Regions from separate parts of the Homo sapiens genome. Here all the other regions are linked to region 1. Evidence: fine-mapped expression QTL. A gene starts in region 1. Each other region holds a variant in brackets. All regions are shown on one strand. Distances are from middle to middle.

The links.
Region 2: its variant is fine-mapped to the expression of GPALPP1 in blood mononuclear cells (TOPMed, PIP above 0.99).
Region 3: its variant is fine-mapped to the expression of GPALPP1 in whole blood (TOPMed, PIP 0.97).

What each region holds. Positions count from the first base shown.
Region 1 is chr13:44,985,600-44,992,810 of GRCh38, reverse strand. GPALPP1 (GPALPP motifs containing 1) reads right to left here and starts at 3,273. Exons shown (of 8, transcript NM_018559.5): 1 at 3,069-3,273. The coding sequence starts at 3,156. It overlaps NUFIP1 (nuclear FMR1 interacting protein 1), which reads left to right and starts at 3,340. Exons shown (of 10, transcript NM_012345.3): 1 at 3,340-3,786. The coding sequence starts at 3,375. RefSeq lists enhancers at 2,527-3,163, 3,090-3,279, 3,470-3,539, 3,164-3,802.
Region 2 is chr13:45,026,108-45,033,318 of GRCh38, reverse strand. It overlaps GPALPP1 (GPALPP motifs containing 1), which reads right to left. Exons shown (of 8, transcript NM_018559.5): 8 at 3,014-5,534. The coding sequence ends at 5,316. Among named protein-coding and RNA genes, the nearest start is that of GPALPP1, 40 kb to the right of the region's middle. The variant A/C (reference allele first, on the strand shown) is at 4,108.
Region 3 is chr13:44,932,978-44,940,188 of GRCh38, reverse strand. It overlaps NUFIP1 (nuclear FMR1 interacting protein 1), which reads left to right. Exons shown (of 10, transcript NM_012345.3): 10 at 1-940. Among named protein-coding and RNA genes, the nearest start is that of TRE-TTC2-1, 19 kb to the right of the region's middle. The variant A/G (reference allele first, on the strand shown) is at 3,748.

The sequences.
Region 1 (7,211 bases):
ATGACAGATGTGTATATTTTACCAGAATAAACAAGAAAAAAAACTAGATGCATATATATGGTTGCCTGATTTATAAGGAAGGTGATAGTGGTGAAAGGATGGTCTGTTCAATAAATGGTGCCAGGATACCCTTACAGGGGCAAAAAATTTTCATCCCTATCTCACACCACACACAAATATCAATTCCAGATGAATTGCAAATATAAATGTGAAAGCTGAAACAATAATGCTTTTAGAAGAAAACACAGAAGAGCTTTATAACCTTGGGGTGGGCAAAGATAGCTTAAATAGGATGCAAAAAATTCTACCATAAAAGAAAAAAATTAAAAGTCAGAATATATTAAAATTAAAAACTTATGTTAATCAAAACATACCAACATGAGTGAAAAAACCACAGAATTAGAGAAGATATTTCTGATACACCTATCTGGAAAATGACTCATATCCAGACTATAAAAAGAACTCTATAAATCAATATGAAGACAGACAACTCAATGGAAAAATAAGCAAAAGACTGAACACAGCATGTATTCATATGGTCAAATAACACATGAAAAGGTGGTCAATTTCATTTGTCACCAGGGAAATACAAATTAAAACTACCATGAGATATTGCTACAAACCACCGGATTTAAAAGAAAAAAACTAAATATTAGAATGTGGAACAACTAGAATTCTCATACACGCTGAGAACTTTGGTGACTTTGGAAGCTGGGAGTATCTACCATAAGACATATACTACAATGCATAGCAGCACATTTTATAACAGCCTCCAAATGGAAATTACTCAAATGTTCATCCAACGTAAAATGGATAAATTGCAGAACATTCATCTAATGGATGACTATATAGCAATGTAAAGAAACAACCTATAATAATTCTGTTTGTTTAAAGACCAGATTATGAACTTCAACAATCTATAATAATGCTAATCTACATGAATGAATCTCACAAAGTAATGTAGTACCAAGATAGGAAGCCAGTTATGAAAGAGAAAACATGCAAAACGAATCTGTGATGCTATAAATCAAGGAAGCAGTTACCCTCTGGTTGTAGGAGGGGTGGTGATGCAGGTAATAACTGGAAGATGGTCCAAGTGCAGCTTCTATGGTGTGATATAGTGGATGTGAAGGCCATTGGTACTGGCAAACTTCTTAAAAATCCAGATAGATGAAATAAAAATGATATATGAAGATTTTTTGGCAACCGTTTTAGGTTCAGCCATCTAGGCGGTTATGAAGGGAATGGAATTATAGCAGGGGAGATTATGTGTTTAAAATGACACACTACGTGTAAGATATTGTGCTTGACGAAGAGAAGTCATTCAACAAATATATACGAAGAATCTTTTTCTTTTTTTTTTTTGAGACAGAGTCTCACTCTGTCGCCAGGCTGGAGTGCAGTGGCGCGATCTCGGCTCACCGCAACCTCCGCCTCCCAGGTTCAAGCAATTCTCCTGCCTCAGCCTCCCAAGTAGCTGGGACTACAGGTACGTGCCACCATGCCTGGCTAATTTTTGTATTTTTAGTAGAGACAGGGTTTCACCATGTTGGCCAGAATGGTCTCGATCTCTCGACCTCGTGATCCGCCCGCCTCGGCCTCCCAAAGCGCTGGGTTCACAGGCGTGAGCCACCGCACCTGGCCTTATTTTATTTTTTTAAAGCTATCTCCTACAGGAAGGAAAGCATAATTTTTCACATTTACTTTTATTTATTTATTTATTGAGACAAACTCTCGTTCCGTCGCCCAGGCTGGAGCGCAGTGGCACTCTCGGCTCACTGCAACCTCCGCCTCCTGGGTTCAAGCGATTCTCCTGCCTCAGCCTCCAGAGCAGCTGGGATTACAGGCGCCCGCCACCACGCCCGGCTAATTTTTGTATTTTTAGTAGAGATGGGGTTTCAACATGTTGGCCAGGCTGGTCTTGAACTCCTGAGTTCAAGTGATCCGCCCCGTCTCAGCCTCTCAAAGTGCTGAGATTACAGGCTTGTGCCACCTCGCTCAGCTGGAAGGCATAATTTTTAAAGTGGTTATGACAGAAATTATATTGGAAAGGGGCCTGTAGTAGAAACATAGCCTCCGGGTAGACCAGGAAGAAAAATTAGATTCAGAAATGGCAGGGTTACTCTTTCAGCTTTACTCTTCTCCAACTGGGTGTCGGTGCTAGTCTACAAATGTGAATAAACATTAAAGCAGATAGGTATGCATGCCGGAATCCGAGAAGCATTCGTTTCGTATATACCAAGTGCCTGTTGCGTGTTCAGGTAGAAGACCATAGTGCAATGGTGGAGACAGATTATGTCGACAAATTATTCAAATACAGTGTACTAAATATGCAATGTAATTAGGAAAAAACCCGAGGGCAAAAAGAAAGGCATGACAATGCTTCGGGGAATCTGGAAAGGTTTTATTGGTGTGACATTTAAGTTGGGCCTTGAAGGATGGGGAGAAGTTTGTCAGTTATGTTTAGGAATGCAACCAGAGGAAGCCCAGAAGCCTAGAGCGTTAAGGAATTGCGCAGCAACTCAGACTGGATTGAGTATTGGGCTGTGTTTGTCAGATGCAATAACAGAATGAGAGGCTAGGAAGGCAGGTCGGGGGCTGGAGAGAACAGGATCTGCAAGGTTCTTGTAATCAGAAGGCAATATGGCACAGAGGTTAAGAGAACCGCTTCCTTCTAAGTCGCGCTCCATCACTTGCTAGCAGTATGATCTAGACACTGGCATGGGCTTGGGCGTACCCATTTGCAACATGGGAAAATAGTTTTTTTCTTATACGGCTTAAATGACTGAGTGGGTATCAGTCAGTTAGGGCAGCGTGCAGCTCATATTAAGGCTAAATGAGAATGTATTATCATCACGAAGCCAAACCACGCCAAAGCTCGTTTCTAGGAGGGTCCCCCAGCCTCCTCCCCCCTGCTACTGTTTGGGAAGAGAAAAGTTCTCTCGGGTCAGGCCGCGCCCACTCCCCACTCCTCCGCCCTCCTAGGCCTCCGACTTTCTTCAGCGAGCAGGGCCCGGCCAGGGAGTGGGTAGATGGGCCTGGTGGGCAGCGGAGACGCCGCCGCTTACCAGGGCTCGGGTCCCGCTCTTCGTCCTCCGCTGTTCCGCGGGCCTTGAAGCCGGGCGGCAGGGCCGGTCCGATCAGGTCTCTTGCCATCCGCGGTGGCGGACACTGGTCACAGATATGAGTCTATCCACGAACGTCAACCCTATCCAAAAAGAATCCCGCGATCAGCAGCGAAGAATGGCAGGTTTCCCGGCGCCGAGAAATGACGTAAAGCCTGTGGTTGGCTGAGCCTTGTAGTTCACGGTAAAGGAAGTGACGCCTAATGCTTGCTCCACAGTCGCGTGCTAGACTCCGGACCCGCCAGTGGTATGGCTGAGCCGACTAGTGATTTCGAGACTCCTATCGGGTGGCATGCGTCTCCCGAGCTGACTCCCACGTTAGGGCCCCTGAGCGACACTGCCCCGCCGCGGGACAGCTGGATGTTCTGGGCAATGCTGCCGCCACCGCCACCACCACTTACGTCCTCGCTTCCCGCAGCCGGGTCAAAGCCTTCCTCTGAGTCGCAGCCCCCCATGGAGGCCCAGTCTCTCCCCGGGGCTCCGCCCCCCTTCGACGCCCAGATTCTTCCCGGGGCGCAACCCCCCTTCGACGCCCAGTCTCCCCTTGATTCTCAGCCTCAACCCAGCGGCCAGCCTTGGAATTTCCATGCTTCCACATCGTGGTATTGGAGACAGTCTTCTGATAGGTTTCCTCGGCATCAGAAGTCCTTCAACCCTGCAGGTAGGCTATTTTTCCACGTGAGTCGACCCCTTTACCTTTTTCCCCCGTTCTTTCCTCTCCCCTTTCTCTGCTTCCTCTCTCTACTCTGCCTTGCCTCTGCACTCTTGGAGTCTGGTCATTAGCATCTCAAAGCAAAGTGAGACCCCCGTCTCTACAAAAAAAATAAAATTAGCCAGGCATGGTGGCATGCCTGTGGTCGCAGATGCATGGGAGGCTGAGGCAGGAGGATTCCTTGAACCCAGGAAGTCGAGGCTGCTTTATCAACTAAGTTTATATAATATTGTAAATCCTTTGTTCTCAAAATATGTCTGACTAGAATGTTTTCCTGTTGACTGTTAATTCCATTTAGCAGTTATTTATTGAATTCCGACTATGTACCAGAATCTGGGTATATAGCAGTGAGCAGAACATACAAAAAATATTATGGAGCTTAATATTATCTCTCTTGTGTAGGAAGACAGACAATAAGCAAAATAAAATATTGTGCATTAGAAGGTTGAGTGGCATGGAGAGAGATAAAACAAAGAAGAATGGTAAGTAGTGCAGGATTTTCTTTTTTTCTTTTTTTTTGGAGACAGAGTGTCGCTCTGTCGCCCAGGCTGGAGTGAAGAGTAGCGCGATCTACTTCACTCCAGCCTATGCAGTCTCTGCAGAGAGGCTCACTGCAACCTCTGCCTCCCGAGTTCAAGCAATTCTCATGCCTCAAACTCCTGAGTAGCTGGGACTACAGGCCCACGCCACCACACCCGGCTAATTTTTTATATTTTTAGTAGAAAGGGGGTTGCCCCGTGTTGGACAGGCCTGTCTCTAACTCCTGAGCTCAGGCATCCGCCCGCCTCAGCCTCCCAAAGTGTTGGGATTACAGGCATGAGCCACCACGCCGGGCCAGGTAGTGCAGTTTTAAATGTCATTGTTAGTCATAAGGAAGGTGACATATGAGCGAAGACTTTAGGGAGGTGAGAGATCACAGCCATGCATACAACTGGGAGAATAGGGGTACGGGCAGAAGGAACTGCAAGTGCAAAGGTCTTGAGGCTTAGAAGCTATACATCAGAATGGGAACCAGTGTGGCTACAGAGGACTGAGTCTGGAGTATAATTGTAGAAGATGGGGGAGGAGGGTAAGACCTGGTATGTCTTTGTAGATCGTGGGACTTTGACTTTTACTGTTGTGAGGTGGGTAGTACAGCGGATTGACATGACCTGATTTACGTTTTAAGAGGATTAATGTGTCTGTTGGTGAGAACTGACTGAAAGGGAAACCGGTTAGGAAGCTATTGTAGTTACTTTTCTAAACAAGAGATATTGGAGACTTGGACCAGGGTGAAGCCCAAGGGATGGTGAGAAGTAGTTGGATTCTAGATCTGGGGATACCTTGGAGCTCTTGTGGGTTCAGTTACAGACCACTGCAGTAAAGCAAGTCACACAATTATTTTTTTTTTGGTTTTCCGTTGCATGTAAAAGTATGTTTTCCTGCAGATCCTATGGGGCAAAAAAGTTATTTTTACATTATACCATAGTCTAGTAAGTGTGCAATACCATTATGTCTTAAAAAACAACTTACATACCTTGATTAAAAAATACTTTAGGCTGAGCAGGGTAGCTCACACCTATAATCTGGGCACTTTATTTATTTTTTTTTTTAATTTGTTGAGACAGAGTCTCTGTTGCTCAGGCTGGAGTGCAATGGCGTGATCTTGGCTCATTGCAACCTCCACCTCCCAGGTTGAGGTGATTCTCCTGCCTCAGCCTCCCGAGCAGCTGGTACTACAGGTGCCCGCCACCATGCCTGGCTAATTTTTGTATTTTTAGTAGAGACAAGGTTTCACCATGTTGGCCAGGCTTATCTCGAACTCCTGACCTCAAGTGATCCATCCTCCTTGGCCTCCGAAAAGTGCTGAGATTACAAGCGTGAGCCACTGCACCCAGCCTAATCTTAGCACTTTGAGAGGCAGAGGCAAGAGGATTGCTTGAGCCCAGGAGTTTGAGACCTGCCTGGGCAACAAAGTGAGACCCCCGTCTCTACAAAAAAAATAAAATTAGCCAGGCGTGGTGGAATGCCTGTGGTCCTAGAAGCATGGGAGGCTGAGGCAGGAGGATTCCTTGAGCCCAGGAAGTCGAGGCTACTTTATCAACTAAGTTTATATAATATTATAAATCCTTTGTTGTCATTTCAACAGTGTTCACAGCATCTTCACCAGGAGTAGATTCCTTCTCAAAAAAGCACTTTCTTTCCTCATCCATAAGAAGCCACTTCTCATCCATTAAAGGTTTACCATGAGATTGCAGCAAGTCACATCTTGTGGCTCCACTTCTTTTTTTTTTTTTTTTTTTGAGATGGAGTCTTGCTCTGTTGCCCAGGCTGGAGTGCAGTGGCTCGATCTTGGCTCATTGCAAGCTCTGCCTCCCAGGTTCACGCCGTTCTCCTGCCTCAGCCTCCCTAGTAGCTGGGACTACAGGCGCCCACCACCACGCCCGGCTGATTTTTTTGTATTTTTAGTAGAGATGGGGTTTCACCATGTTAGCCAGGATGGTCTCGATCGCCTGACCTCGTGATCCACCCACCTCAGCCTCCCAAAGTGTTGGGATTATAGGCGTGAGCCACTGCGCCTGGCCCCTCCACTTCTAATTGTAGTTCTCTTGCAGTTTCTACTACATCTGAGGTGACTTCCTCCACTGAAGTCTTGAATTCCTCAAAATCGTCTATGAGGGTTGGAATTTCTTCTTTCAAACTCCTGTTAATGTTGATCTTTTGACCTCCTTCCATAAATCATGAATGTTCTTAATGGTATCTTGAATAGTGAATCAAAACCTCCTTTCTAGAAGGTTTTTAATCTACTTTGCTCAGATCCATTAGAGGAATCACTATCTATGAATCACTGTGGATTTCTTTCAAGAACTTTTCATCCAGACACGGTGGCTCACGACTGTAATCCCAGCACTTCAGGAGGGCAGAGCAGGAGGATCCCTTGAGCCCAGGAGTTTGAGGCTGCAATGAGCTATGACTGCACCTTTATATTCCAGCCTGGCTGACAGTGAGACCCTTTCTCAGTAGTTGCATTCACAACTTGGCTAGCCGTTTGGCACAAGAGGCCTGGCTTTTGGCTTGTATCAGCTTTCAACGTGTCTTCCTCACTAAGCTTAATCATTTCTGGCTTTCGATTTAAAATGAGAGACATGTGACTCTTCCTTTTGCTTGAACACTTAGAGACCATGATAGGGTTATTAATTGGCCTACTTTTGAATATTGCGTCTCAGAGGATAGGGAGGCCTGAGGAGAGGGAGAGGAGAACCACCGGTTGGTAGAGCAGTTAGAACATACACAGCATTTATAAAGTTCACCATCTTATATGGCCACGATTCATGGTGTCTCAAAACAATTACAGTAGTAGCATCAAAGATCACTGATCACAGATCAGTATAACA
Region 2 (7,211 bases), 41 kb before region 1:
CTATCTCCAACCACTTTCCATCATGTTACTTCTTCCTCTTAGGTGTAACTCAAGAAATAACTTTTTTCTAATAATACCTATCACTGCATGGAAAAAATGAAAAGAGAAGTGATAAGGGCCTCCTATTAGTAGTTTAATATTAACATTATCTACCCTCAATAAGAAACAAAAAATGTCATAATGTTTTAGGATAAAATTACTTATACAATAACCATTGATCTATTCTGAAGCATGTAAGCCTTGGTACCATGCAAATCTCAACCTCACTTTTTTTTTTTTTTGGAGATGGAGTCTCGCTCTGTCGCCCAGGCTGGAGTGCAGTGGCGCGATCTTGGCTCACTGCAACCTCCGCCTCCTGGGTTCAAGCAATTCTTCTGCCTCAGCCTCCCGAGTAGCTGGGACTACAGGCGCACACCGCCATGCCCAGCTAATTTTTTGTATTTTAGTAGAGACAGGGTTTCACCATGTTGCCCAGGCTGGGTCTCAAACTCCTGAGCTCAGGCAATCCGCCTGCCTTGGCCTCCCAAAGTGCTAGAATTACAGGCGTGAGCCACCGCACCTGGCCAATCTCAACCTCACTTCTAAATAAATCGTTAATACAAAGAATCATTCAGGCCAGGCGCGGTGGCTCACGCCTGTAATCCCAGCACTTTGGGAGGCTGAGGTGGGCGGATCACCTGAGGTCAGGAGTTCGAGACCAGCCTGACTAACATGGTGAAACCCCGTCTCTACTAAAAATACAAAAATTAGCTGGGCACGGTGGTGGGCGCCTGTAGTCCCAGCTACTTGGGAGGCTGAGGCAGAAGAATCGCTTGAACTCGGGAGGTGGAGGTTGCAGTGAGCCGAGATCACGCCACTGCACTCCAGCCTGGGCAGCAAGAGTGAGACTCCATCTCAATAACAAAAAACAAAACAAAGAATCATTCAAGGTTAAGATGATAAATTAAATGTCAAGTGGTTGCTACATCTAAACAAGATCTACATCTAAACAAGGTTGCTAGCATCTAAAAACTCTTAGATCAGGGCTTTTCTCTTTTTTCTTTTTCTTTTTTTTTAGAGCAAGACTTAATTTACCATGTTGTGCCTAATACAAAAAGGATTTCATTTATCTGGTAAGGCAGTCTTAGTAGGGGTGTAGCCACCATCTCTCGTGTTTTGTTCACCCCTTACTTCCCCACTTGCTAAACCCAATAACCCCACCGTTTACTTACCAGTAATGTGGTTACTATTTGAAGCATCTAAATCTATTGGAGATGACAATTTAGAGAGCTGGACAAAAATCATATAATTTCAAGTATAACAAACTTAAATGGCATATTCAATGGTAAGAACATTAAAAGTATCTGCTCCATTATATTAACTTAGTGTTGCTCTTTTTTTCTTCTTCATTTTTAAATTTCAAAAGAGGCCACATTCCTATGACACTTGGCCAAGAAATGTAGGAAATTAAAAAGTCCTTATTAAAATGTCTCCTGCCAGATGGAAAGGAGACTTGATTCAATTAGGCCTTTTGCATCTTTGGAAGTGGGGAGGGGATGAAATAAAGACACCTTTCCGTCCTGTGCAATAACTACTTTGTCCTTTTGTTGTCAATATTCTTGTATTGGGATTAGTCTCTCTGTGGGGCAAAACAACCTCTGAAACTGGCCTTACATTTTGTTAAAATTATCCTCAGGTTGGCACAAAAGAGCATTATCTCCAAGGCCAGTAAGGTAGTAACTCCTGGAAGCAATAGGCGGAAAGCAGAGGTTTCTCTCCTTCATGCCAAGGTCATGGTCACTCCAAAGGTGAGGGATGAAACAGTAAATATATAATACAGAAATATCCCTATTCTCTTTAAATGAGGAAAACAAAGAAAAGTAAGTATCCAAAGATAACAATTTTACTTTAAAAAATGCAAATTTCTCAAAAATATATGTTAAGAATTTACATAAGGAAGAGGAGCTACAAAATACTTTTTTCCTTTCATTGGGAAAAAATTATAACAAAATTAAATTAATGCAATGGAGACACTCTTGTACAAAATTTTGTGTTCAGAAAATACTGCTCATTAAAAATGACATTTTTAGTCAAAAGGTAGCTCTGTTCAATTTTGAGTACACAAGAAGCTTTTTCAATTTGCTTAGGAGAAAAATTCATCTATTTATTTACTTATTTATTTAGAGATGGAGTTTCACTCTTGTTGCCCAGGCTGGAATGCAATGGTGTGATCTTGGCTCACTGCAACCTCCGCCTCCTAGGTTCAAGCAATTATCCTGCTTCAGCCTCCTGAGTAGCTGGGATTACAGGCACCCGCCACCAGGCCCGACTAATTTTTATATTTTTAATAGAGACAGGATTTCACCATGTTGGTCAGGCTGGTCTTGAACTCCTGACCTCAGGTGATCCACCCACCTCGGCCTCCCAAAGTGCTGGGATTATAGGTATGAGCCACTGCGCCCAGCTAATTCATCTTTTTAATAGCAATGCTCCTTTAGTTTGCTATGGTTTACACTGATGCTATGGAAAAAATATACTGTACTGCTATTATTAGAGGAAGAATAATTTGTACCATCATATAAACAATATACTCAATTTTCATAAAGCTTACATGAACTGGGAATCAGAATATTTTTCCATTAAAAATTTGTGTCTTGGCCAGGCATGGTGGCTGATGCCTGTAATCCCAGCATTTTGGGAGGCCGAGGCAGGTAGATCACCTGAGGTCTGGAGTTCGAGACCAGCCTGGAACAATATATAGTGAAACCCCATCTCTACTAAAAAATACAAAAATTAGCTGAGCATGGTGGTGCACGCCTGTAGTCCCAGCTACTTGGGACACTGAGGCAGGAGAATCGCTTGAACCCAGGAGGCGGAGGTTGCAGTAAGCTGAGATCACGCCACTCTACTCCAGCCTGGGTGACAGAGCAAGACTCCATCTCTCAAAAAAACAAAAATAAACAACAACAAAAATTTGTGTCTCATCAAAACTAGAATACTAGTGGAACAATTGGGATTAATCTGCAAGAAAATATAACTTATAGAATTGGCATTTATTTAACAATAGTTTAATAGTTTAAATAGAATTTCTCATCTTATAAATTTATCATCTTAAGAGGCAGTGCTTAAAGCATTACAAACTTATAATACTCCCAATTAGGGGGGTTATGATTATAAATTTTCCATTTCCATTTTTGTATTCAGGGATTATTAAATTTTTAAAAAAGGCTATTCATGACTGATATGACCCCCGTAAATTAGCTAAAAAAAAGATATGACCCCATAAATTAGCTACAAACTGTTAAGTACAGCATATAAATGGGTAAAGTAAAGTTGTCCCAAAGCAAAGTTCCAGGACTCAGAAAGCTTTGGTTGAGATCAGAGATTGAGTCTTACAGATTTCACAATGCTAACAGTTAATGGCATATCTTATCTTGATTGCCTCCCCTAGAAATACTAACTATTAAAGTTGGAAAAAGCAAAATAGTTTTTCCTTAGCACATGAGATAACCCAGAGATCTTTCTGACTTAAAAACAATTAAAAAATTAAATAACAAATAAAAAGCCCTGAGTGCTAAAACAAGCAAACTGATTACAAAACAGGCAAAACCCCATACCCTCTATTTTCAAGTAAATTTGTATTCACTGGCTGCAGTTTAAAGGGAAAAAACAACAAATTTCAAAGTCATGGATTTACAGTAAGGACTTGACACACTGACTCTAGGGCAGGTTAGGTATATTTCACAAGGAGGTCCAGGCTGTGGTAGAGATTTGGTGGTCAGTCCTGACCAGACCTTAGAGGGTACTTGTGAGACACCACAAAAATCAGGGGGAATGGAAGCCTCTTAAAATAATTATTTGAAGAAAAGCCCATAATTCCCCATACTTCCACAGAAGCTAAAGGCACATAGAATATTCTGTTCTACATAAAAAACATTCGTTTTATGTTTCCACATGACCTTAAAAGGACATACAGAACAAGGTAAATTTGTATGTTTTTTAAGATTAAAGTAATCTCTAATCTTAAGAAGCCAAAAACAAAGAAATAAAGATGGACAAAGAGTATTCTTCAACTTTTCTTCATTGCACAGGGAAATCCCCCTGAGGTAAGAATAAGAAAACTCAGTA[A/C]GTTGGAAAATATTTCTAAATTTAACATATTTTCCTCAAAAATCACATTTGAATATTGATATAGGTTTAATACAATTAAAAATCATAAAGATATTAAGAAGCAACCTCAGCTTTTATGTAATTTCTTTTCTTCTCTTTTTCTTTCTTTTTTGAGACAGAGTCTCTCGATCTTGTCACCTAGGCTAGAGTGCAGTGGCACGATCTCGGCTCACTGTAACCTCCACCTCCCGGGTTCAAGCAATTCTCCTGCCTCAGGCTCCCAAGTAGCTGAGATTACAGGCACGTGCCACCACACCTGGCTAATTTTTATATATATATATTTTTAATAGAGATGGGGTTTCACCATGTTGTTCAGGCTGGTCTCGAACTCCTGACCTCAGGTGATCCACCCGCCTCACCCTCCCAAAGTGCTGGGATTACAGGTGTGAGCCACTGGCCTCTTTTTTTTTTTCTAAAGAGACGAGGTCTCACTTTGTTGCCCAGACTGGAGTGCAATGGCACAATCACAGCTCACTGCTGCCTTGAATTCCTGGGCTCAAGGGATCCTCCCACCTCAGCCTGCTGAGTAGCTGGGACTATAGGTGTGCTCCACTGCACCTGGTTAGTTTTTTGTAGATACGGGGTCTCACCATCTTAAGCAGGCTGGTCTCAAACTACTGGGCTCAAGCGATCCTCTCACATTGGCCTCCCAAAGTGTTGGGATTACAGGCGTGAGCCACTGCACCCAGCTTTATGTAATTTCTTAATCACCATTCTGAACCCTTGTCAGATTGGGCTATGGATGAATATTGGAATAGTTTTGAACCTTAACTTATAGGGGACCTTTCTAAGCAACAAACATTTCCTAGTTGGGATTTTGTTTAACATACAAACAACCAGCAAGCCTTTCTTCATCTTTAATAAAGCATGCATATTTACTCAAGTATCAAACCACACCTTCCTTTGCCATTTCTCATAAGCTGAATTTTTATTTTAGCATTTTTAATAGCAATGCCCTATTAGGTTATTATGAGGGATTTTTCCAGTAAGACATATTTTTCATCCCACAAGGCTGACTTTTCAAAAATCACTGTTTACTTATAAAAATATAAAATTTTTAATCTATTATAAAAGGAAATAGATTTCAGCACAATTATTAAAGACAATAGAGTATTTAGAAAAGTTCACATTGATCAGTATTAAAATATACCTCACTGAAATATACTTACTTATAAAAACATATTGCCTTTGCCGTGTGAAAATCTGGTGTTTAGTTCTCTAGATTTTTTTATTAGGGCTTTTTTCTGAGCTTCATCAAACCGATTAACCTTGAGATCTTTATCACGGTCAAATGGTATTCTCTCTTGAGGCTTATTTTTGTCTTCAGCAGCCTTACTCTTTAACTTTTTATGATGTATGTCCATAAGAGATTCTGATCTTTTTGATTCCTGGAGAGAGCAGGAGAGCAGAAATAAAAACTATAGTTTGTATATAGATTATTGACAGAATATGACCATGAAACGGAATAGATAGTAATGGTGCACATTAAGGAGGGCTATTTACAAACCCCAGTAGTTTTTTTTTTTCCAAATCCAAGACAGCATTTATAAAGAAAATATGTAATGAAAAGCATTATGGTTATTTAAATACTAAACATCAGAGTACAAACCAAGAACGGGGTGTGAAAGAAAGAGCAATCATATTGTCACTTCATAGACGTGCTGGTCTTTGAAGGCTAAATGGACGGATAGGAAGGAAAGGCACTGTCAGGCTGAAGCAAAAACAAAGGTAAAAGAAAAGTAGTAAGAACACGGATGTGGCAAAATTCAAGGCCTGTGCAGCATATGTTGGCATGTTCCATAAGCTAAGATAATTTTTGTTCCTTTCAGTTTTCTGTCGTTCTCTTTTTCCCTTAATTCCCTCAATTTTTTTTCTTCTTAGCTAGGGTAGGTGTTCACATTTTCAGATGTATCTAGTAAGACAAAGTCTGAGCAAAAACAATTGATTTAATAAACTAGGGATTGACTACAGACCACTGAGTATTGACTAAGGTAAAGGATAGAACAGTCCTGGATGGAAGGAGCAGGGAGGGAGATGGAAAAGGAGATGCAGGTAGTACAGACCAGCAGCCTTCAATCTGGGGTATACGTATCCCTGGGTGCTACAGAGAGTAGAGTCTATGGAGTATGAAGGCATGGGTAATTTTAAGGCTATTTTTCCATGATTCTCTACTTCTTCATGTAGTCTTTCTTACAATTGATTTGGCCTAGACTACCTCTTGTGAAGATGCCATCCCTTTCATTATAGCCCTTTCTCATTTAACAAAGGAGGCTATAGAATATTGTTTAGGAAAGCAAAAGTCTTCAGGGTATGAGACAAAAAACCTAAAATACCGGTATGATTGAAACTTCCTTTAATCAAGAAACTGTAAACACAGGAGGGTTCTGTGTCCTTCTGTGTCTGAAACACATTTCTCCTAAGAGTGTAGTGTCCTTTAGAAATGGGTATTTTACCTTTTATTGAAATGTTCTGAATTCAGATATATTGAAGAGTGGGTAATGGAAGAAAAGACAATTTTTGCTTAACAACCATACCTCTTCCAGGCCCTTCCTACTGCCAAAGAATGTACTTGAGGGGGAAGGAGTGAAGAAACCTCAGTGAAAGCAAAATAACAAGGCACTAGTAAAAAATGCTGAAAGTGACAGTATCTTATTTTATCTAGAAGGTAAAATGGCACCTAGATCAGAATTCAGAGTGTCATATGAATGGTCATTAACACATTTATTTGAATGGAAAAAGTGAATCAGAAAGTAAGTCTGGTCTGGCTGATCTGACAACCAGAAATGACTTTGTCAATTAGATTATGTGACAGCCATGTCTCATAAATTAACTGAACTCAATCTGGAGCCATAACGTTTTAGCAGAATGTACAAAAGATACATTAGTAAATATGTATTTAAATTGACACTATTCACATTTTCCTATTTCTGCTCAATATACTGGGTTAAGCAAAGTACTTCTTAAGTATTTTATAAATATTGATAAAGTCTTTAGAAACAAACTGATTAGCAAATCAAGTGCTTTCCAATTCTTTATGTTCAACAAAATTGAAGGAGATAAAAAAA
Region 3 (7,211 bases), 53 kb after region 1:
GTTTCACCCTACTCCTCCAGTGAGCCCCATATTTTGGGAAATTATCTGCCTTATACATTAACTAATTCAATTCATGTAACACTGTTGAGTGCTTACTCTTTGTACCTCTATTGTGCCTATATTAAAGGTATACAAATAAATAAGGCCATGTCTGACTTCAAGGAACTCAGTTTAATTTTGATATATTCAAAGATGTGATTCCCAACCAACTCAGGATGAAGTAACTAGTGTTACAACTGAGTTGATATTCTAAAATATAACACAGTTTGTACTTTTATTACTAGTTAGCATACACATTTTATAGGCTTATGGGTTAATAAATGAATTCATGGACTCCTGGACTACTTTCATTGATGACCATATCTCCAGGGATGTTGTTGATCCCCACACTGCCTTAAGGTATATTATAGAAACAGTTTTATTTTCCATTTTTCTTGTTTCCTGATAATAAATGTATTTAGGACTGAAAATACTCCTGAGTACTCCCTTGGCTGTATGTCTGACAGTCTTTAGCTATGGTGACTATTGTTTATTTTTAATGGGTATTTCAGATTCCAAGTGTATTTAAAATTTCTAAGGAGATATAATATAGCCTGTATGGTTTCTACTTTATGGAATTATATGGTCAATATTTGTAAATATTCTATGAGTTTTGGGTGGGTAGAGGGGTGCTTTGCCTGTTTTGGGTACAGGTTTTTTTGGATTTAGCTTGTTAATTGTTCAAACTTTCTGCCTTCTACATTCCTATCTTATTGTTCGTTTAATCAGTTTCTGAAATGTAAGCATTACATGACTATTGGTGAGTTGTGCCTTTTATAACTGAAATACTTTACTTTTTCTCATATCCTCTATAATTGACTTCTATTTTCCTTAATCAAACCAGCTCTGGGAAATTTAATACATTTATATTAATTGAGATTATTAAAACATTTGGACTATTCCTGGCTGTCTTACTTTGTATTTTCTATATATCATGCTCTCTTGTTTTTATTTTGTCATCTTACTGGCTTGTTATTTTTTTCTCCTTGTTATTCCTCCAGTGGTTTGGAAGTAATTAAACCTATTGCTATTTCTTTAGTGATTACCTTTTTTCTTTAAGTTTAGAGTTAATTAGTAGCCACATCTTCCATCCATCTCCCAATTAAGTCAGTAACCTTAGCATTGTTTCACTTCCCCACCTCAGCCTCTTTTTGTGATGTAATCAGATACGATTTTAGTTTTAGATTAATCCCTGGGATCTTGGTGCGTATGTGTAAATAGTTATTAGGCCACTGTGAGTTTTACTGTTTTCTTCTGATTGCTTTCTCTTGCATCCCAGGATTAGTTTTCTGGTGTGCTGCTGCATATCTTCAAGTAATTAAATGTTGAATCTTCAATTTAAAGTTTTTTAAATTGAGTTATGGTTTTAGACTCAAAATCATTTTCCTTTGGAATTTTGAAGCTATAACAATCATTTGCTGTTATCCAGTATTGTTGATTAAAGTCACACCAATCCGATTACCTCTCTTTATTTATTGATAAGTAACCTATTTTTTCCTCATGAAAAACTTTTGGGGTTTTCTTTTTATGCTTGGAGTCCTAAAATTTCACCAATTTGTGTCTAGATCTCTGGGACATTTGTCATTCATGCTGCTTACCCCCACGGTCCTTTCATCTGAGTCATTGTACCATTCTTGTACTAAAAGGCAATTTTAAATAAGATTTTTAAAATTATTTTTCTTAGGTGGATGTCAAACCTATTAACTTACCCTCTACACTATACTTCTGTATTTTGTCTTGATCTATTTATTCTGAAAGATTTCTTCAGATATCACCTTCCAGACCACTAATTCACTCTTTGAACATATCCATTACCTTATTATTCAGCTCTTCTATTTCATTTTAAATTTAGTAATTCTTTATTTTTTAGAGACAGGGTCTCACTCTGTTGCCCAGGCTGGAGTGCAGTGGCATGACCATAGCTCACTGTAATCTCAAACTCTGGTGCTCCAGTGATCCTCCCACTTCAGCCTCCTGATTAGCTGGGACCGCAGGCACGCACACCACTATTAGCCTGGCTACTTTTTAAATTTAAATTTTAATTTTTTGTAGAGATGGAGTCTCACTATGTTGCCCAGGCTGGTCTCGAATTCCTGGCCCCAAGTGATCTTCCTGCCTTGGCCTCCCAAAGTGCTGGGATTACAGGTGTGAGCCACCTCGCCTTGCTAGTAATTTGTATTTACATATTAAAGATTGCTGTCTCTAATTCTTTTTTCTCTTCTTTTTCTTTCTTTCTTTTTTTCTTTTTTGAGACAGAGTTTCACTCTTGTTGCCCAGGCTGGAGTGCAATGGTGCGATCTTGGCTCACCACAACCTCTGCCTCCTGGGTTCAAGCGATTCTCCTGCCTCAGCCTCTTGAGTAGCTGGGATTACAGGCATGCACCACCATGCCTGACTAATTTTGTATTTTTAGTAGAGACGGGGTTTCTCCATGTTGATTAGGCTGGTCTCGAACTCCCGACCTCAGGTGATCTGCTTACCTCGGTGCTGGGATTACAGGTGTGAACCACCATGCCCAGCCCCAGCCCCTCCCTCCCCCGCCCCCACCTTTTTTTTTTTTTTTTTTTTTTTTGAGACAGTGTTTTGCCCTGTCACCTAGGCTGGAGTGCAATGGCACTATCTCGGCTCACTGCAACCTCCACCTCCCGGGTTCAAGCGATTCTTCTGCCTCAGCCTCCAGAGTAGCTGGAGTTACAGGTGCGCACCACCACGTCCGGCTAATTTTTGTATTTTTAGTAGAGATGGCGTTTCACGATATTGGCTAGGCTAGTCTCAAACTCTCGACCTCAGGTAATCCACCTGCCTTGGCTTCCCAAAGTGCTGGGATTACAGACGTGAGCCATCACGCCCATCCTCTAATTCTTGTTTCATACATGTAGTACCCTTACATCTCAGAGGAGATCAATCAGAATTTTCACATTTTCTGTTCCTTGTTTTCCCCTTTGATTATCATTGGCTCTGTGTGCTGTCTGTTGTCCTTAAATGTTCCCCCTTAGCTAGGAAAGAGGGATTCCCTCTTGGTAGTTGGTGTATGTTTTCCCTGCATTTGTATAAGCTGTCTTTCTGCATTTAACCTTGACTGAGAAGGGAGCTTGTTAACTGGCTGAAGATTTAGAGTAGTGGTCCCCAACCTCTTTGGCAGCAGGGACCAGTTTCACAGAAGACAATTTGTCCATGCACAGGGCAGGGGGATGGTTTTGGGATGAAACTGTTCAACCTCAGATCATCAGGCATTAGATTCTCCTAAGGAGTGCACCTAGATTCCTTGCATGCATAGTTCATAATAGGGTTTGCACTCCTATGAGAATCTAATGGTGCACTTAGATTCATGTACAATCTAATGGCGAAACCCTGTCTTTACTAAAAATATAAAAGTTAGCTGGGCATGGTGCATGCCTGTAATCCCAGCTGTGCCGGATGCTGAGGTATGAGAACCACTTGAACCCAGGAGGCAGAGGTTTCAATGAGCTAAGATTGCACCGCTGCACTCTAGCCTGGGTGACAGAGGGAGACTCTGTCTCAAAAAAAAATTAACAACAACAAAAAAGTTTGAGAAACAGTGTACTAGAGCATTGTCAAACAAATTCACCTAATGGGTAATTAACATATTGTGACTATGATTTACTGTTGTTAAGGCCCAGACTCTAGAGCTAGATGTTAACTTGTACATCATTTGATAAGCTGCAAACGATGATCTGGTAGAGTGGT[A/G]TGTTATTTTTCTGTGATAGAAAAGAGGTTACAGTTTTTTAGCCTTGTAGAACATTAACCACATTAGCATTTAACTATGAGATCTTATTCCAGCATTCTTCTGTGACATTCTCTTTTGTCATCTTGCAGGGTCCTATGGTAATAAGTTTAATAAGTTTTTTGACCTGTGCTTACTTTGTTATGTTTTTTACTTTCTGAAAATTATTATTTGACTAGTACATGAGAATTTCTTTTTACCCATGTTCTTACCAATGTATTACAAATCTTTCTACTAGTTTTGCCAATGCGTGAAATGTGCCAGTGTGTAAGATGTATCCTAATTTAGAAAAAAAAATTTAAATTTTCCTCAGAGTTCAGCTGGGGATTATCATTCAGGTGCTTCAGGAGAGTGTGAGACTGGAAGAAGGACCAGGTAGTGTCCAGGCCTCCTTTTTCATACCCCACATGGCTTTTGGCTAGGGAGTTGTGCCTTTCCTTCTGGAGCACCCTCTACCCTGAGGACTGATCCAGTCAGTCAGCAGCCCCCAGTCCAGAACAGTAGTGCAGGGATCCCAGTGTTGGACTTTTCAAACACAACACAGGTTACATTTAGATGACCTTACTGAGAGTCAAGAACATCCCACAACAGCAAATATGGTAATGTTACTCTGTCAGGTGAGAATGCCTTTTTTTCTCTTGCATTTCCCTGACACTAGTGAAGCCATGCATTTTTTCAAATATGTATATTTTTGGCCCTTGTATTCTGTGACTTGTCTGTTCTCATCCTTTCTCTATTTTCCTGTTGTTTTGCCTTTTATTCTTGATTTGTACAAATACTTTATTATAGATCTCAATCTTTTGTTAAATATTTCAATTTCTTGCTAGTATTTTAACTTTTGCAGAGGTTGGATCTGTTACTTTGGCTTTGGGGCTTTGTGTCACCCCCCAATACATATTTTTTTCTATTACTTTTGTGATACTACATATCAGTCTTTAATCTGTTTTCCATATGGTATGAGATAGGGATCTGTCAGGTTTTTCTTTTAAATTCTCTATTTTATAGAAGTAGAGAAGAGGACCTTCAACTTTTTTTGTTTTTGCTCTAATCCCCTTACTTTTACAGGTAACATGGCCTATCTTCTTGATAATGCCTTCTAGGTTTTGTAGGGTTTTTTTCCTTTGAACATGATAATACCATATACCACAGCAAACAGTTCATTATTATTATACAATTTTACAGTTAGTGTTTTTTTTTTTTTTTCTATCTTCAGGGGCAGAGTAATTTACTCAAGCCTATCTTTTCTTCCTTCCTGTGCTCTTTTCCATTTTCTTAAAACTATTAAATTGCTTCCTTGTTTTATTAGAGTCATAGCAGCAGCCACTTCATAAATTCTGATTTTATGTACTCAAAGGTTGCTGCCTGTAACCACTAAACTTTCTGAAACTATCCTAACCAATAATTACACACTTTTTACATGTTAAGGCGACCACTCATTTTTTTTTTTTTTCACTTCTTACCAGGGCTGTGGCCTTCTTAAATCTTGTGGGAAGTGAGTCACATATCATTGTCTTGCTTAAGAGCTTCTGAGAAATGTAAAATTACCTCTAAGAGACCAGTCAATATTATTTGTAGATCAGCTGCATAAATTTCAGCATATGGGAAAATTCTTGAAAATGCTGATACTTGAAAATGAATCTATGATATTATCTGTTCTTTCAGCTCTGGAAGGTTTTTTGTTTGTTAACGTAATATTGTCTTAATTCATCCCATATTTATTTGTATGTTTATTTAAAACAGTGCTGAGGCTGGGTGTGGTGGCTCACGCCTGTAATCCCAGCACTTTGGGAAGCCAAGCTGGGCAGATCACTTGAGGTCAGGAGTTTGAAACCAGCCATAGCCAACATGGTGAAACCTTATCTCTACTAAAAATACAAAAATTAGCCGGGTATGGTGGCAGGCACCTGTAATTCCAGCTACTCCGGAGGCTGAGGCATGAGAATCACTTGAACCTAGGAGGTGGAGGTTGCAGTAAGCTGAGATTGTACCACTGCACTCCAGCCTGGGCGACAGAGTGAGACTCTGTCTCATAAATAAATAAATAAATAAAAAATACTGAGTCACGATAGTAGAAAATCCATTTCCTCGCAGAGGCAGAGAAAAAAGTTCTGAATTGGGTGCCTGTTTGTATTACAAGGCTGGATGATTTTCTTTTTGATATTTTGAAAGGGATATTTTCCAGAACAGATTTTTAGACTGCAGCTAAAAGCATAATGCTTGAATTTGGTAAGCACTTATTAAGTCTCATACAGTTTGTGGTGGCTGTGATGATATAAGACTGAGAGACAAGGAGAAATTTCTCAACAAATGTCAAAATTGGAAGTGTCTTATATTGTTTTAAAATTGGGAAGAGCTAAGGAGATGGAAGATATAAATCAAATAATGTACTGAGTTGGACTGGCAGAGCCTGAGGTACTTACTACCCTTAATTACTTGGCAAGGACAAATGACACTTGGAATTAATTGCTCACTGTGTCAGACAATGTGTTACTTTGATATAGACCAGTGGTTCTCAAACCAGGATGATCATCTCAATATAGATTCCCAAGCCTTGCCCTGAGATTTCAATTTTTGTAGGTATTGGGGTGTGGCCCAGGAATATTTTAACAAGCTCCCAGTTGCTTCAGATGATCAGACAGGTTTGGGAAGCACTGATTTAGACTATTGTCTGTGCAACAGGAACCCTTTTTGTGGGGCTTTTTGCTTGTTAAAATTCAGATTGCTGAGCTCCACCTCCCATATTTCTGATTCATAGGTTTTGAGTGGGGCCTTTGAATTTGCTTTTCTAATAAGTGTTTAGGAGATGCTGATGTGGCTGGTCCTGGGACCACACTTTGAATACCACTGACATAGACCATCCCCAAGACTCCTGGGCACACTCAACAAAGAAAAATTCCATAGCGAGGTCTCCAGTTTTTGTGGCTCAAGTTTTTGCATTTCCTTTTCATGTTCTACTTCGTGATTTCTTTTTTACCCTGGAATGAGCATTAACTGATGGACCTCTGTCCCAGGGGAAGGTTTGGAGAGGAAAGAAAATGAAGTCTGTTGACTAGGAAGGTGGTAGTATAAGGAAAGTATCCCAGAAGTTGTGTAGCTGTGGGCAAAACCCTCGTTCTGTGACCTTGGTTTTACTGTGATCTGGCAGGTCTCCTCATCTTCCTGAGCTCCAGCCATGCTTCCTCAGTGTGCTTCCGCCTGCCAGGAGGCGTTTGCTCTTCTCTAAGTCTGGAAAGCTCTTCTCGTTTCCCTATTGTCTTATTGCTTGCTTAAACTTGAGTCTCTGCTTGGTCATCGCTTCCTCAGGAAGCCTTTGCTGACCTCCCTCAGTGGGTCACTCCTTTTATACACACTCAGCACCATGTACTTGCCTATCTCAGCAGTTACCACAGTGGCAGTTTTTTATTTCCTTGCGTGATAATTTGATTTG